Homo sapiens: one gene and its partners. The protein of the gene in region 1 purifies or fractionates together with the protein of each later gene. This does not show direct contact. Each region holds a gene or a part of one and is shown on either strand. Other genes may lie near its edges.

Evidence for each region. Proteins that work in one complex are often made in the same cells at the same time.
Region 2: the proteins of SLC67A2 (region 1) and NUP210 purify together in Homo sapiens (affinity purification with mass spectrometry; one large-scale study listed by BioGRID and IntAct). This does not show direct contact.
Region 3: the proteins of SLC67A2 (region 1) and CDIN1 purify together in Homo sapiens (affinity purification with mass spectrometry; one large-scale study listed by BioGRID and IntAct). This does not show direct contact.
Region 4: the proteins of SLC67A2 (region 1) and AGK purify together in Homo sapiens (affinity purification with mass spectrometry; one large-scale study listed by BioGRID and IntAct). This does not show direct contact.

The regions. Positions count from the first base shown.
Region 1 is NC_000002.12:102,734,089-102,738,025, reverse strand, and holds the start of SLC67A2 (major facilitator superfamily domain-containing protein 9), read left to right. Parts: upstream 1-1,137; 5' UTR 1,138-1,215; coding exon 1,216-1,380; exon of another isoform or gene 1,381-1,496; intron 1,497-3,937.
Region 2 is NC_000003.12:13,326,323-13,329,822, forward strand, and holds part of NUP210 (nuclear pore membrane glycoprotein 210 precursor), read right to left. Parts: intron 2,625-3,500; coding exon 2,449-2,624; intron 1,116-2,448; coding exon 895-1,115; intron 1-894. UniProt on the Homo sapiens protein: Nucleoporin essential for nuclear pore assembly and fusion, nuclear pore spacing, as well as structural integrity.
Region 3 is NC_000015.10:36,586,126-36,589,625, reverse strand, and holds part of CDIN1 (CDAN1-interacting nuclease 1), read right to left. Parts: intron 1-3,500. UniProt on the Homo sapiens protein: Plays a role in erythroid cell differentiation.
Region 4 is NC_000007.14:141,613,910-141,617,409, reverse strand, and holds part of AGK (acylglycerol kinase, mitochondrial isoform 1 precursor), read right to left. Parts: intron 3,265-3,500; coding exon 3,232-3,264; intron 1,940-3,231; coding exon 1,845-1,939; intron 1-1,844. UniProt on the Homo sapiens protein: Lipid kinase that can phosphorylate both monoacylglycerol and diacylglycerol to form lysophosphatidic acid (LPA) and phosphatidic acid (PA), respectively. Does not phosphorylate sphingosine. Phosphorylates ceramide.

The DNA of each region.
Region 1 (3,937 bases):
GATTCAATTATATGTCTTAATTCTAAGTATCAGTATTCCACTTCTCCCTATTCAGTGCCACCTCCCATGAGAAACTTTGCAACACTGAATTTAACAGATCTCAGAATTAGCAACCTACACAAGTAAATTGAGATTTTGAGCAAAATCTCAGTAAAATGTCAGAGTCTTCTTGATCCCACAGTGAAAGAGGAATAAATAACAAGTTCTAAAGAAAAGAGGGGCTAGTCACTATTGTTAACATTTATTACTTACCATGTGTCATGGGCTTTGCTAAGTAATTTAAAGGCATCTTTTGGTGTCATGCACTCACTTAATTCCTTTCACTGCACTCAGAATAAACCCCAAATCTCTGTTATGGCCTTCTGGGTCCTAAATGGTCTGCACTCCTGCTGACCTCTCAGTTTGATGAGGAAGTTTCAGCCACACATATCTTCTTTCCACTCTTCTCAGCTTACATGTCACCTCCTCCAAACTGCTTTTCTAAAGTAGCTCACTCCCCACCTCATTACTTTCCACATCAAGACCGTGCTTCTTTATATTATCACCATATTATTTTACTTATTTTATGCTTTTTCATTGCATGTTTAGTATTTTTATTTATGTTTATTTACTGCGTGCTTATTATTTTTACTCCATGAGACTGTAATCTCAACTCAGGCATAGACCATCTATGGTTTGTTCACATTGCACTGCACCAGAAAGGATCTTAAGAAGCATGTGTAGAATTCTCACACCTCTAGAAGTTGGACTACATTATTTCCTACTGCTTTTTAAATAGGCAAACGAAAGCTTGGAGAGCCACGTTAACGTATCCTAGGTCTGTCACAACCAACTGGTGGCCAGGGTCTGTGGATCTTCAAGCTGGAGTTGGTCACCTCCTAGCACAACTCCATAGGAGGAAGTGAAGCTCAATACAATTCCCTCCTGTCCTCCAACGATAGGGGCAGCAGGGTCTGTACCCAGAGGAAACAAAGAGCATCATCATTATCATCACAAACTGGTGTGTGCTTACCGTATTGATGATGTGCCCAGTCCCCACCTTGCCTGAGACCAGAACTCCCAGCCAGCACCGGCCACGCACCCGCGGAGCTGCCAGGTAGCACCCGCCCCCTCTCTCTGCGCAGGCGCGCGCCTCCTGCTTCCGCTCGGGGCGGGGCTGGGCTCCCGGGGTAGGTCCGCGGCTGCTGCTGCGTCCGACCCCCGGCCGGCGCGGGTATGGAGCTTGGGGGTCACTGGGACATGAACTCGGCCCCGAGGCTGGTCTCGGAGACCGCAGAGCGGAAACAGGAGCAGAAGACAGGAACCGAGGCGGAGGCTGCCGACTCCGGTGCCGTCGGAGCCCGCCGCTTCCTGCTCTGTCTCTACTTGGTGGGCTTCTTGGTGAGTGCGAGCGTGGGGGCTGGGAGCAAGTGCTGACTGTGTTCGGGCCTGGGGACCCAGGCGGTTCTTGGAGCTTCCGGGGAGCTCCCAGGGAGTGGGAACCCGCAGTCCGCCTGGTGAGTGCCTCACTACCTATCAAGCTCTCCTCTTGCCCTATCACCCACTTCAGTCTGCATCTGGCCACACTGCTTTATTGCCCCTCGCGCTTTCTCTTGCACCCCGTTCGCGGAACGTCTTCCCTTCCCTGCCTTTTGAGAAGCCCTGGTACCAACCTCAGGTGTGACCAGGTGTTAAATGCTGTGGCAGGTGCAGCTTTTGCAGGGCGGAGAACAGGGGTGTGGGCAAGCTTGGAAAAGCCCAGCTGCTGTGCGGCTGCTGGTGAGGTAGGGACACGCAAGCCTTTTTACCAGAACAGGCAGGGGAGGCCGCTCTTGACCCCGCTTGGACAGATTTAGGCACATTTTCACTAGGATTCTTGGTTGACTTAAATATTAAAAAATGCAGATCAGAGTGAATTTTACCCATCTGCCTTTCGACAAACTGCGCATTGCACAGCGTAGGTTTGGTTTCATCATGATGTGTGTGCCTGTGGTTTGCTTTTTTACCAGACCAGGCTGGAGAAGCCGCTGTTGATGACCCCACTTGTACAGAATTGGGTGCATTTTCACTAGAGCTCTCGGTTGACTTGAATGTTTAAAAATGCAGATCAGAGTGAATTGTACCCATCTACCTTTGGACAAAGGGTGTGCATTGCACAATGGCGGTTTGGTTTCATCGTGTGTGTGTGTGTGTGTGTGTGCGCGCGCGCGTGTCCTGGTTTGCTCCCTGAGTGCTAATTTCCCACGTAGAATGGAAAGTTTAGTAAGCTGATTCATGGCATTTCTGAACACCTGCCATGTGGCAGGTGCTGCGGAGCTTCACTATTGTAATCCACAGTTCTGCCACAGAAGAATTCAGTCTTACAAGTAAGCTGATGTTGGTAGTTTCTGGGCCATTATCTGCAAGAACCCTAGATCCACCTCTGCACTCCTCCCTTTCCAAGGCTAGGCCTGATTCAGCCCTGAGTGTGAGCTAATCCAGTATCTTGAGGGTAAGGAAGCTGCGATAAGTGTCAATGGGAGAAGGCTGCCTTTGAGGCCTTGAAGATAGTATCTGATGGCACTGGGCCCTGGCAGGGAGTCATCGTTTTCTGCCCAGATGCAGATCAAGACCACCACTTCTCCCAGTTTCATGCACTCTCCATGCCACCACCTCCATGCAAGGCGTTCAGTTGGTAGCAACTCTATGTTGAGTTAATAGTTAAGATCACCATGAAAGCATGTTCATCAAATTGCTGCAAGCCCAGAAACACAAGGTCTTCAGGGAGGGCGGCTTTTTAGAGAGGATTTCTCTGCCTCTAGGCCATTGCAGGATCCACCCTCCAGCTCCATGCCTTTAACTTCAGAGACTGGCACTCCTTCTGACCACTATTCCTTTAATCTAGTAGTTCATTCTCAGCATGGGGATGCTTCTTCTACTTTTCAGTCTAGGCACCTAGAATTCACAACCAGTGAGTATGGGTGGTTCTTGGAGAGGAGTTGGCTGACATCCAGCCTTTTTAGTTATGGGTCCCAAGCTACTGCTGTCCTGTCTCAGAAGGGACTTGGGCTGGTTCAGCCAGATGAAAACATTTGAGCCCTTACCTGGAAAGTCCAGACTAGGGTTCAGAGAATTTGACTTAGAATTCAAAGTAGTTTTAGTATTAGAATAAAACAAAGCAATTCGCAGATCATTTGTTAAGGTCAGCCTTCCAATACAGATTTGAATATTCACAATTTATCATATGTTTTCTTTATGCTGTGTATTTGGCAAGTCTAATCTAGCAAGCCTGATACAGAATTTTAATAACTTTAATAATGTATTCAAGAGAACCATTAGGTGTCTCATATCTTAAGGGAAAAGTTTATGGTTTCCCAAAAGTTGAAAGAGTAGGGATTTTTTTAATGGAAAATATTGTAAACAATTAAATATATGAAGCTTTACATGAAAGTCACATAAAGCTACCTAACAGATGATTGTTAGGTAACATCTAAGGAACATTATACATAATTTAGTTTTTTTTTGACATATTTAGGGATGTAGAGACCTCTAAGATTCTTGGACAAATGGTTTCTGAATGGGAGAGGAAGGGAACAAGCTTAGAGAAGTCATTTGCCAAATTGTTCTGTTTTAGCAGTTATCCGTACTTCCAAGTTTTAATTTGTTTAGGAGGGAAGACCAAGATGACCCTTGAGGCCCGTTTTGTTTAGGATGCTTAGATGGTGATGAGATCTATTATTTCAACCACTTTTTTCCTCCAGATACTTGGTGAGATTTGTTTTCCATCCCATCAGCTTTATTCAGGTGATAATTCATTTTCATTGAGATAGTCCAGTAATCAATAATTACTGGGGTTCCTACCCTGAAAAGAGTCTTGAAACTTTTGAGTGTACATATTCATCAATTTTTATTGAAAAATGTTGATATTCAGTGAAAGTTTAAGTGGCCCCTTCTGACATGATCTTTTTACAAGTGGTTA
Region 2 (3,500 bases), on another chromosome or scaffold:
TCCCCATCCCTTCGTTGCCTTATCAATTCCTTTTTAGCAACAGACAGCAGGTGTGAGGCTCAGAGCTTTCACCACATACACATCTGAGTTAAAAGCCAATCACATTATATAATAAGTACAATTAAAGGACTCAACCATAATCTATTTATGGCAAATTATATTTGTTTTTCCTTAAAGGTAGTATTTCATCTCCTTTTAAAATGAATTTAGTAAGGTTAAAAAAAAAGGTGGAGACAATTTGAAAATAAAAGCTAAGTAAATAATTGTACACGTGTTCCACAGATGTACTACAGGTCACCTGGGCATGGCTGAAATTTGGAAGCCCCTGATTTAGCCCAGTGTCCTTCTTTGCTTAAGTCTCCCAGCCTGTGCTGTCCACTATGGCGGCCACTTCCCACAGAATTCACTAAAATGGTGAATTCAGTTCCTCAGCAGCAGCAGAGATCCGTGTGTCTCCTGGCTAGAGGAACTGAGTGAGACTATGCAGAGACAGGATGCCCCACAGGGGCAGGGGACCCCCCCACCGACTTGGCAGAGCTGTTCCAGAAAAGGGCTGGCAAATGCTTTCTGTGAAGGTCGGACATAAGCATTTGGGCTATGCAGCCCATACAATCTCTGCTATGACCACACAATCTGGCAGTGGTAGGGTGACAACAGCCACTGACCATACATAATGCATGGCACAGCTGAGTGCCAACAAAAATTTACTTGCAGAAAACAGGCACAGGCTGGATCTGGTCTCCGGGCAGCAGTTTTGGAGCACTGCTCCTGAGTATCCTGCAGGTCTGCCTGTAGGCCCCCGTGACTGGTGCCGAGCCCCTGCCCAGGTAGCCCCCACCCAGCTTTGCAAGCGTCCGTGACTCCACAGGTTCCCTTGCTCAGGATCTATCTTACCTTCCAGGCTGGTCAGAACAGTGGCCAGACAGAGCACGTCCCCCACCACCATGGCCCCAGACAGCTCTGGGGAGATGGCCTGTAGGACAGGCAGGGGCATGAAGTCCGAGAGGCCCGGGTGCTCTGCGTCCCACACACGGAGCAGTGTCAGGCCCACGCTGACTGTGCGGACAACGCAGGTGTTGTTGGTGGGGCCCTTCCCGATCTGCACAAAGTCGTCTCTAGGCACAGGAGAGAAAGGAGGGCTCTCAGTCTCGGGAAAGAAGCTTCCAACTCCCAAAGGGAGAAACGTAATCCATGTCCTCTGCTGAGCAAAGCATTCAACTGACTGAGGTCCCAGGTGTGGCCCCAACTCGAGGTTACCAAGCAGTGGCCCCAGATGAGGGACCACTGCAGGCAGGTGGCACAGGCTCGACCTCCTCACTTGTCATGCCAGAAAGCACATGCAGCTCGCAGCCAAACAGTGGCAGCAGCATCATTCCTGCATTTCAGAAAGGAAGCTGAGGCCCCGAGGGGAAAGAGATCCAGAGTGCTTCCTCACGCTCTTCCCACCAGGGAACTGGACATGCCAGAAAGGGAAGGCTGCCCTTACTATGCAACCTGACTGCAGAAGCAGCCTCTGCCCCTTTCCTCCTCTGAAAAATGGGGATCATCACGTGACCGTGACGCAGGCCTGGCATAAGCATTACATGAGGTCAGCAGTGGGGAGGCACCTGCCACAGGGCAGGTGCTCAGTCAATGTTGGCAATGGCAGCTTTGGTGCAGAAGTGTGGACTGCGTGGGGTGACAGTTTGGGTTAGGGATCATGGCTGCATCCTTGCCTCCACCACACCTTCTGACCCTGAGTGCTGACTAGGTCTCTATCAGGTGCTCCTGCTACAAGAAGGCCAGAATGACCTGCAGTGCAGCCAAAGGGCTGGGAGAACTGGGCTCCATTTCCTCCAGGACATGCCCTAAACTGATGGATGGCAATTATGTGCGCACACACGGAGTGCCATGGTTTGCCAGCGGTCCTCATGACCACTCCCTCAGCTGAAGGAAAGCCCTGGAACCTAGGCCATATTGCCCAACGTGAGAGGTGTGGAAACAGATTTTTGGATGGTGACCTACTCACAGGGCCCACGAAGGGCAGAGCTGGGGCTAGAACCAGGCCTGACTCTAAACCCCAGTTCTTTCCATAAGGCAACACCCCTGACACCTGTCTTTGAATGCATTCAGCAACAGGGAAACACAACTGTGGCAGGACCTGTGGGCAGCCGAAGCTGAAGGGCCAATTTCCTGTGCCTCGGGGAGCACTCCCTGGAGCTGCCCCATGCCCTGTTTCCTCCTTTGGGGGCTGATGCCTGTCTGTCTTCCTCTGAGCTGGTCTACATCCCCCAAGGGCAGTGGTGTTTCCTCGTGGCCCTGCATGGTGCAGCATGCCCACATCTCTTGGAAACTGAAGTAATACACATCTTCCTTCAACAGCAGCAGACTTTCTGTGTTATCCCCAGTTGTCTCTACCAGGTACCAGACAGGACTTCATAGGAGAAATGACCCTTGCCCACATCCTACCTGTTAGTGGCAAAGTTGAGGACCGAACTGTGAGCATGGAAGACATCTCCAGAGTTGTCGTGGAAGTGGACAGTGAAGGTCACGGTCATTCCCAAAGGCACGGCCACCAGGGCCTCCTTGTTCTGGGTGTGCAGGACAGGGCTCATGGAAACCCTCAGGTAGGAAACAGGGGATACCTAAGGGACAACATACAGGTATGATGAGGATTCAGTGCCAGGGACTGGCCTCCAGGAAAACCCACCTCCCAAGGAGGGGACACCTGCCCCCAGCAGGATCCACCTCAGGAACAATGCAGGGCTGGACTTAGGGGTCCTGAGAGGAGTAAAGGCCACACTCCCCAGAGTGTCCCAACCTAGTGACAAGGTTCTTACTTCCCAACACAGCAGACTGGCCTCTCTATGAGAAAACCCACCCAGGAGTGTCCCAATCCATGACTTGAATAAATGAGATCACTATTTACATTGCAAGAGGGCCCCCTGGGCTGCAAATGTCCAGTTTCTTCAGAGAACCTGGCTCTTGGGGCATTTAAAGAAACGAAATCCTCCTCGATCGCAGGGGCAGCGCTAAGCAGGCCACAGCATGCCCTGCAGGCCACCAGGGGAAGGAGGGAAATGGGGATTTCTGGAGCCCAAGAACCCGAGCTCCATAAACAGCAGCCCTTGTTTCTCTGAGTCCAGGTGAAAATCTATCCTCGCTCAAAAGCTAGTGCTCCAAAGGTCTGAATTTCTTTAACAAAGTTCAGTGGTGCAGTGTCTGGTATACAGCTAGTGCTCAGTACATATTTGTTGAAATAGGATGAGCAGTCAGTCACTTTCACTCACCAAAAACTAGAGCGGGGGATTTGCTGCCAGGCACCCATTTTGAAACAAAATGATGTGAATTAATGAAAGAGGTCTGTGACCCAGGCAGAGTCTAAAGATTTAAGTGAGTGTGTGTCTTCTGTCATCCAGGGTTCAGCAAGTGGTGATGATGAGACATGGAAAGAAAATTCCATTCAGCAAAACCCCAGGACCTGACCCAGGGATGCTGATGGAGAAGGTCCCATCCGTAAG
Region 3 (3,500 bases), on another chromosome or scaffold:
GCTGAGGCAGGAGAATGGCGTGAACCCAGGAGGCGGAGCTTGCAGTGAGCCGAGATGGCGCCACTGCACTCCAGCCTGGGAAGCAGAGCAAGACTCCGTCTCAAAAAAAAAAAAGAAAAAAGAAATGGAGAACTGTCATTCAGTTAGGAGTTTCACCCTAGCAGCTTAAATGTATTCACTGTATATACAGCTCACTGTTTAAGCAACTTGACAGCAGAATGGAGAAAGGAGAAACATCTTCAAGTATACATTTGAAAACATCTCCCTTCAATAAAAAGACAATTAAAAATAAAGAAGCATTTACTCTTTACCTATCTTCTATATGATCTTTATACCAGAGCATGACTTCATATATTAAGGTCACTTTTCAGATTTAATCTAGTAAAGCATATATTGATTGTTTTGTTTCTAAGGAAAATTCAACCAATACGGCAAAACTGTACAAAATGTGTAATAAAAACAATGGCAAATTCAGTCGACTTTGTCAAAAGTTAAATAATAAAATATTATTAAACTATACTTCTATTGAACCTTTTTTTCCCCTAGAGAAATATATAATTTCTCCTTATTGCACAAGCAATCATTCTGGTAAGGGTTATTACTTAGTAAACTAAAGTTTGATGCCTGAATATAGATTTTTTAAATAAAGCCAATATTCTAATTACATGAAAATTCCCCCCAAATTAATAAGAAATATAATTATAGCATGTGGATTCTTCTTAGAATAACATTATCTGAGGCTTTCTTCAAATACTCCTCTGCGAAGAATTCAAGCTCATATCCCTTTCGCAGCTACACAATGCAAAGATGCACAAATATCTAATAAAAGCTAAACACTTCTTTTAGAAAGTGAAGGGGCCATACACTAACATAATAACCTTTCAGAAGAGTCTTTAAAGCTAAGCTACAATGTAGCAACAAAGTAAAAAAATAATAATAATAATACAGAAAAAAATGTAAAAGATCACTAAAGAAAACACATGAAATAATCATACTCTTTTCTTAGACATTCCTACCTAGTCCAATGATTAATACAGAAATAACCCTAGATATCCTTCCTGGGTGTATGAATATTAATTTTAAAGATCATGTAAATTAATTCTATTTCTATGGCAAAACCATCAGTAGAATTTCCAGTTCAATAAAAGCCTTTCTCTCTCTTTCTAAGCTATTCTCACTTATTATTCTGGAACTCAGGTCCACCACAAAATTATCAGAAGTGTAGAAAATTGACCACAAACTGAGAATCAACTTTCATTTCAATTGAGAAAAACAAGGCCAATAGGAATAGTATTTCAATTAAGTATACCAAGCCCTACGGTATTAATTATGCATTGCAATGCTCCCTCAATTCTTAAAAATCAGTGAATTTAGGTTTAAAAGGTTTTTTTAAATGCCATTATATATCACTGTGAAATACTTAAAGAAGTTTCTGTTAACGATACAATATTCAACTGATAATCAAATCTTACATGTTCAGCCATACAACCAACTGTTCCATATAAACATTTTCATTTTCTGTAAATCTACTGCACTTTGTTTCAAAGCAAAATTGTGTTTTATGTTTCAAAAGGTTACTGCTCAGACATTTCTTCTACTGTAGATCAGCTACTACCTTCTAACAAAAATCATATTTACTTTTCATTAAAAACTTACGGAGAGCTCTACACTGCGCTGTTTTACATGCCTTATCTCACTTCACCGTCACCACAGCCTTAAGGAACTGATCAAGAAGAGACAACAGAGCGAGAAAGAGATTCTGGAGCCTGACTTTACTTGGGTTTGATATCCTGCTTCCTCTACTTCCTAGCCGTCGGACTTCACCTCTCCTTTTACAGATGAGACAACTGTGACTCAGATAAAAAGAGATAGAGCTTTTTATTTCTATCATTTCTCAGGAAGAAACTGTGATAGGAGGCAAGAAGAATGGAATACGAGACTCCCTCTGGAAAGAGCAGGCATCTTAAATGCATCATTTATTGGGGGTGGGAGGGATTGTTCAAAAAAGACAACCATAACCAATGGCAGCACCAAGTAAACCAAGCCACCTCAAATAAGCATAAGAGCCAAGTAAAACTGCTGTGCTTGTCCCAAGCAAGTTTTTTAGCTACTCCACTCCTTACCAGATTGGACTCCTAAGTTCACCACCAAGAACCACTAAGTTCAACACTGTACACAGCACAATACACAATATGGCCAGCTTCAACTCATTTTCTGGTAAAGAGAGGTGAGATTTCAAGAAGATGACTAAGTACATTGGTTTAAGCACAGGATGACCACTCAAACAAGTTTTTACCTATTACTTTTGAGATCTTACTAGGAACAGCAATTTAAAGCACCTCATATGAGTGAATGGTTGCCTATGTCATAATCCAAGAGTAGGAAGACAGTAGGAGATATGGGCCAAGATAGAAAAAAAGAAAAAAAACATGCTTCAAAATGTGGAAAACACCATTAGAAAAACCTAAGCCAGGATCTCTAAGGGCAAAGATATATCAAAATGATACAGATATCTATTTGCTTAGCGATTTATGGTATCACGAGTTTGAGTCATTAGTACAGCGACTAAATAACCAATATATGGTAAGGGAACTCAAGGAAAAATTAAACTTGTGCCAGAGGGCTTGGTCTACTAGCAAAATAATTCCCAACAAGGTATATTCTACTTATTTGAATCCTAAGAATGCTACTTAACCATATCTGAACTAACTATTCAACGAATCCTTTGGCTTCTAACATTCTATGATTCTAATACTTCATAGCTATTGGATGTGTCTTACACTAGTTTCCTCAGACTACAAGCTATCCAAAATTAGTTACTACATTATCCTATTTTGTTTTGTTTTATTTTGTTTTTAGAAATATGTTGCCCATGCTGGAGTACAGCTATGTTGCCCATGCTGGAGTACAGTGGCTATTCACAGGCACAATTATAATGCACTGTAACTTCAAAACCCTGAGCTGAAGTGATCCTCACATCTCAGCCTCCTGAATAACTAGGACTACAGGTGCCCAGCTATTTTGTTGTTATTGTTGTTGCTGTTTGTTGTTGTTGTTTTAATACCCAAATAGTGCCACAAACATAGTGAGCACACTATTATAGACCACATGCTAATTAAGTGGTGAAAAACTCTACAAATACCAATGAAAATCGTGGGCTAATTGTAGGGTAGTTCGTTTCACATAAAATGGTGGCAGTGGATGACACTGGTTAAATGAATATTCTGGTGAGAGAAATAGAGAATCACTATTAAGCAAATACCAGTAATAACTGCTTCATGAAAAAGTCAATGGATGCTAAAATCAATGGGAAAAAGGGTGACGAGAAACAAGAAATTTGCATAGTCTCAAAGTATATCCCCACAAGGTATTTATTAAAAGGAACAATAGTAACTTTATAGTGCAGTTGTAATAGTTAAAAAAAAAAAAAAAACTCAAAGGTAAACCCACACCAAGCAAACTGTGGAGTGTCTCAAAATGAAGAATTAGGGAAGAGGTAC
Region 4 (3,500 bases), on another chromosome or scaffold:
TTATAAATTAAGTTTTATAAATTTTTAAACTATAAATAGCAGCAGCAACAGTAGTAGTTTAACTACAAGAGAAAATCAGTTCCCCCAAACTGAAGACTCTCTCAGACCCTGGGGGTTGCCACACTCTGTGTAAATTAGCTTTTGGACAGGCAAGGGGTCTCCAAGGAAAATGGTCTACCCTTGGATCAATGACATATGCTATTTGGAATACTGGCTAAAGCAATTCAAAAAATCTACACTGACACAAGGAGAAGACAAGCTCTCTAATGTAACCAACACCTGAATCAGACAGGATTCATCTTGGAAAAGCAAAAATGTGAGCAATTAACTGTCATTATCTACTGCCCCTCAGAAATTCTAAACCGGGAATAAAAAGTATGGCCAACTGACTTTGGGAGGCCGAGGCGGGCGGATCACGAGGTCAGGAGATCGAGACCATCCTGGCTAACACAGTGAAACCCCATCTGTACTAAAAATACAAAAAATTAGCCGGGCGTGGTGGCGGGCGCCTGTAGTCCCAGCTACTCGGAGGCTGAGGCAAGAGAATGGCGTGAACCTGGGAGACGGAGCTTGCAGTGAGCCGAGTTCGCGCCACTGCACTCCAGCCTGGGCTACAGAGCGAGACTCTGTCTCAAAAAAAAAAAAAAGAAAGAAAAAGAAAAAAAAAGGATGGCCAACTGAAATGGCCTCTCCTGTAGTTAGGCCCTCAGGATGGCTAATGAATAGCTGAATAATCCCCATTATATTAAGGTTTGAAATATAAAAGAAGTTTGAATGAAGATCTGACATATATATATGTGTGTATGCCTAGTGTTTTGAAAACTGGACTAAGATGCTTATTAAAATATAGAATTGTTAAAAGAGATACAGTTGACTCCTAACATTACAATAGCAAAAATAAATTCACAAAAGCCAGCCTAATCAAAGAATTCCAAAGCAGAAAAAAAAATCCTTAACCAAAACAGAAAATCACTTGGGTATTATTATTATTTATTCTAGAAGATTATAACCAGAAAAATCATGAGAAAATTTTCATTAAATCATGCAACAAATATTTATTTATTGACTTCCTCCAATGTGTCACAAAGCTTACGTTAACCATCAGGCAACTGATCTCTCAGCTATCTCTCCATTTATTTGGGTCTTCTTGACAACTATTTGCTCAAAATGATGTTATTAATCACTGTCAAAGCTCAAATTCAAGATTCCTATCTTCTTGAAAGAGCAGAGCTTTGTTTACATAATGCCTTCAAGCAAAAAAGAACAATAATAACAACAATTTGCTTGACTCCCAAAAACACTGTGAGACTCACAGCAATTTAATTTAGATGTCAGAGCTACACTGCTTTCCCAGTCTACTTTGTCTACACTGTCTACCACTTTAAGTATTCCCAAAAGGATGTGGCTATATTTACTTGTTTTAGCTATTTTTAATATCAAGATAATGAAGCCAGGCTACTAGTTCAGTCTTCACAAGGGACTTGTTATTTGTCATTGCATATACTTAAAGCAAACAAATGAGCAGCACAAATATGTCTTCACTAAAGAATCTTACAATGTACAAGCACAAAAACGGTTTAGGTCAGGGATATTATCTTCATAACTGACAAAAGGACATCAAGTATTCACCTCCCTACCTGACCTGGAGACTTATTATAAGAGTCCCACAACCAAGTTGGGAGACTTCCCAATGAACTGAAAGGCTGAACTCTGATCTAGGTCCTCCTCTTAATTATTTGAAGTTTCAGGCTATCAAAACTCAAGAAAGTTATAGCATACACATAAATTTTTCATTCCCAGTCTCGCTCACCCACAAATGCTAATTCCCCACATTGACAACCTACTGGACTTTGTTTCCACTTTCGGCAAAGAGGGTATGACTCAAACTACTGGTCTCTCCCAGTGGGATAAATCCAATGGGAATCTTACTGAAGGTAGCCTGGGGGGGGAAAGAAGAGGAAAGTTTTATTGTTATGATCAGAAAATCAGGCTTAATGGAGAAGCACAGGTGTGTCCACTATGACAAATAACTGACCCTGTATCTGCCTCCCCATCTCCTTTCCACATCCTTAGACCAGTAATCAAATAAAGCTAGGTGGGTAATTTCTAAAACAAGGCAGTCAATGAAAACAAAATGACTCAGAATTTGGAAGAAATATTTTAGTACTCATTAATGACAACTGTTTGAAAGAAATTTGGTTAAGATAATGAGGGTTTTGAAGATAATATATCAATGCACTAGTGCAACAGAGACTGTATAACATTGTCACACTATTTGATAAAGTTGCAGATAAAATTCAACTAAAAATGTCTACCATTTATACAGTGACCAATGACAGGTGAAGGTGCTTTATAAACTATCTTAAGTACAAATAAGGCAAAGAGAATAAACAAGTTCAAATAATAGATGGTACTGGCATAGCAGTTAATTAAATGCCACACATACAATAGATACTGTAAGGTTCAAAACAATTCTGAGCACAATGTACTATTACCAAAGGGACTGAGAAGGATCTTCTAGCTATTGTAGAAAAGTGCATAAAATAATGTTACAAAAACACCCATGTGCCCACAACCTATATTTAACAAATGTTAACATTTACCTTTTTGCTTCATATGTTTCAAGAAATAAAACGATAGAGATACAATGAAAGTCCCTTCTAAAACTATTCTCCTCTCTCCCTTCCCAGAGGAGACCATTATCCTGAGGTTGGTGTGATTCCTTTTCATCCACATTATTATTCTTTTGCTACATATTTAAGCATCCATTAACCATACATAGTATTGTTTTCTGAATTTTAAAACACTGTAGAAATGCATAACATACCTGGGCAACCTGCTTTTTTTTTTATTCAAAACTTTTGAGATTTAGCCATGTAGATATTTATACATTTAGTTCATTCATTTTAACTGTTAGATGATTCCCACTATATGAATATGCCACAATTTCTTTTATGAAAAAGTTCTTTGAAAAAAAGATTCCATAACAAAATTTTAAATAACCATTGTCAAAGTTATTGGATACCATCAATTACCAAACCAGAAAAGTCCCCATGTGTTAATATACGTGTTCTATGACATGGGTAGCAGTATTTTCTTTTCTAAAATTCAAGAAAGCACAATTTGTACCCGTTTTAAAATATACAATGGAAAAAAAAAGTAAAAGAAAGAAAAGCAATAAAAAAGAACAGAAAAATAAAAGTTAAAATGCAATTACTCTTTAATGCTCACCTCATCTGTTCGTCGAAGAACACCAGTAACAACCTACAAATGTAATAATAAAACATTGTTATAAATAATATGTATTTCCTTTACAATAAAAGAATTGGATTCAATTTTCATAGACCATAAACTTACTCCTGTTTTCTTCTTAGAAGCTCTGTTAAAAGATGCACTGGATCTTAAAACATATAGTATTCTCCAATAGAATCAGAGCTAAATTAGATTTTATTTTTGACCTATGATCAATAATACAATAAAGGCTAAGATAAAATAATTAT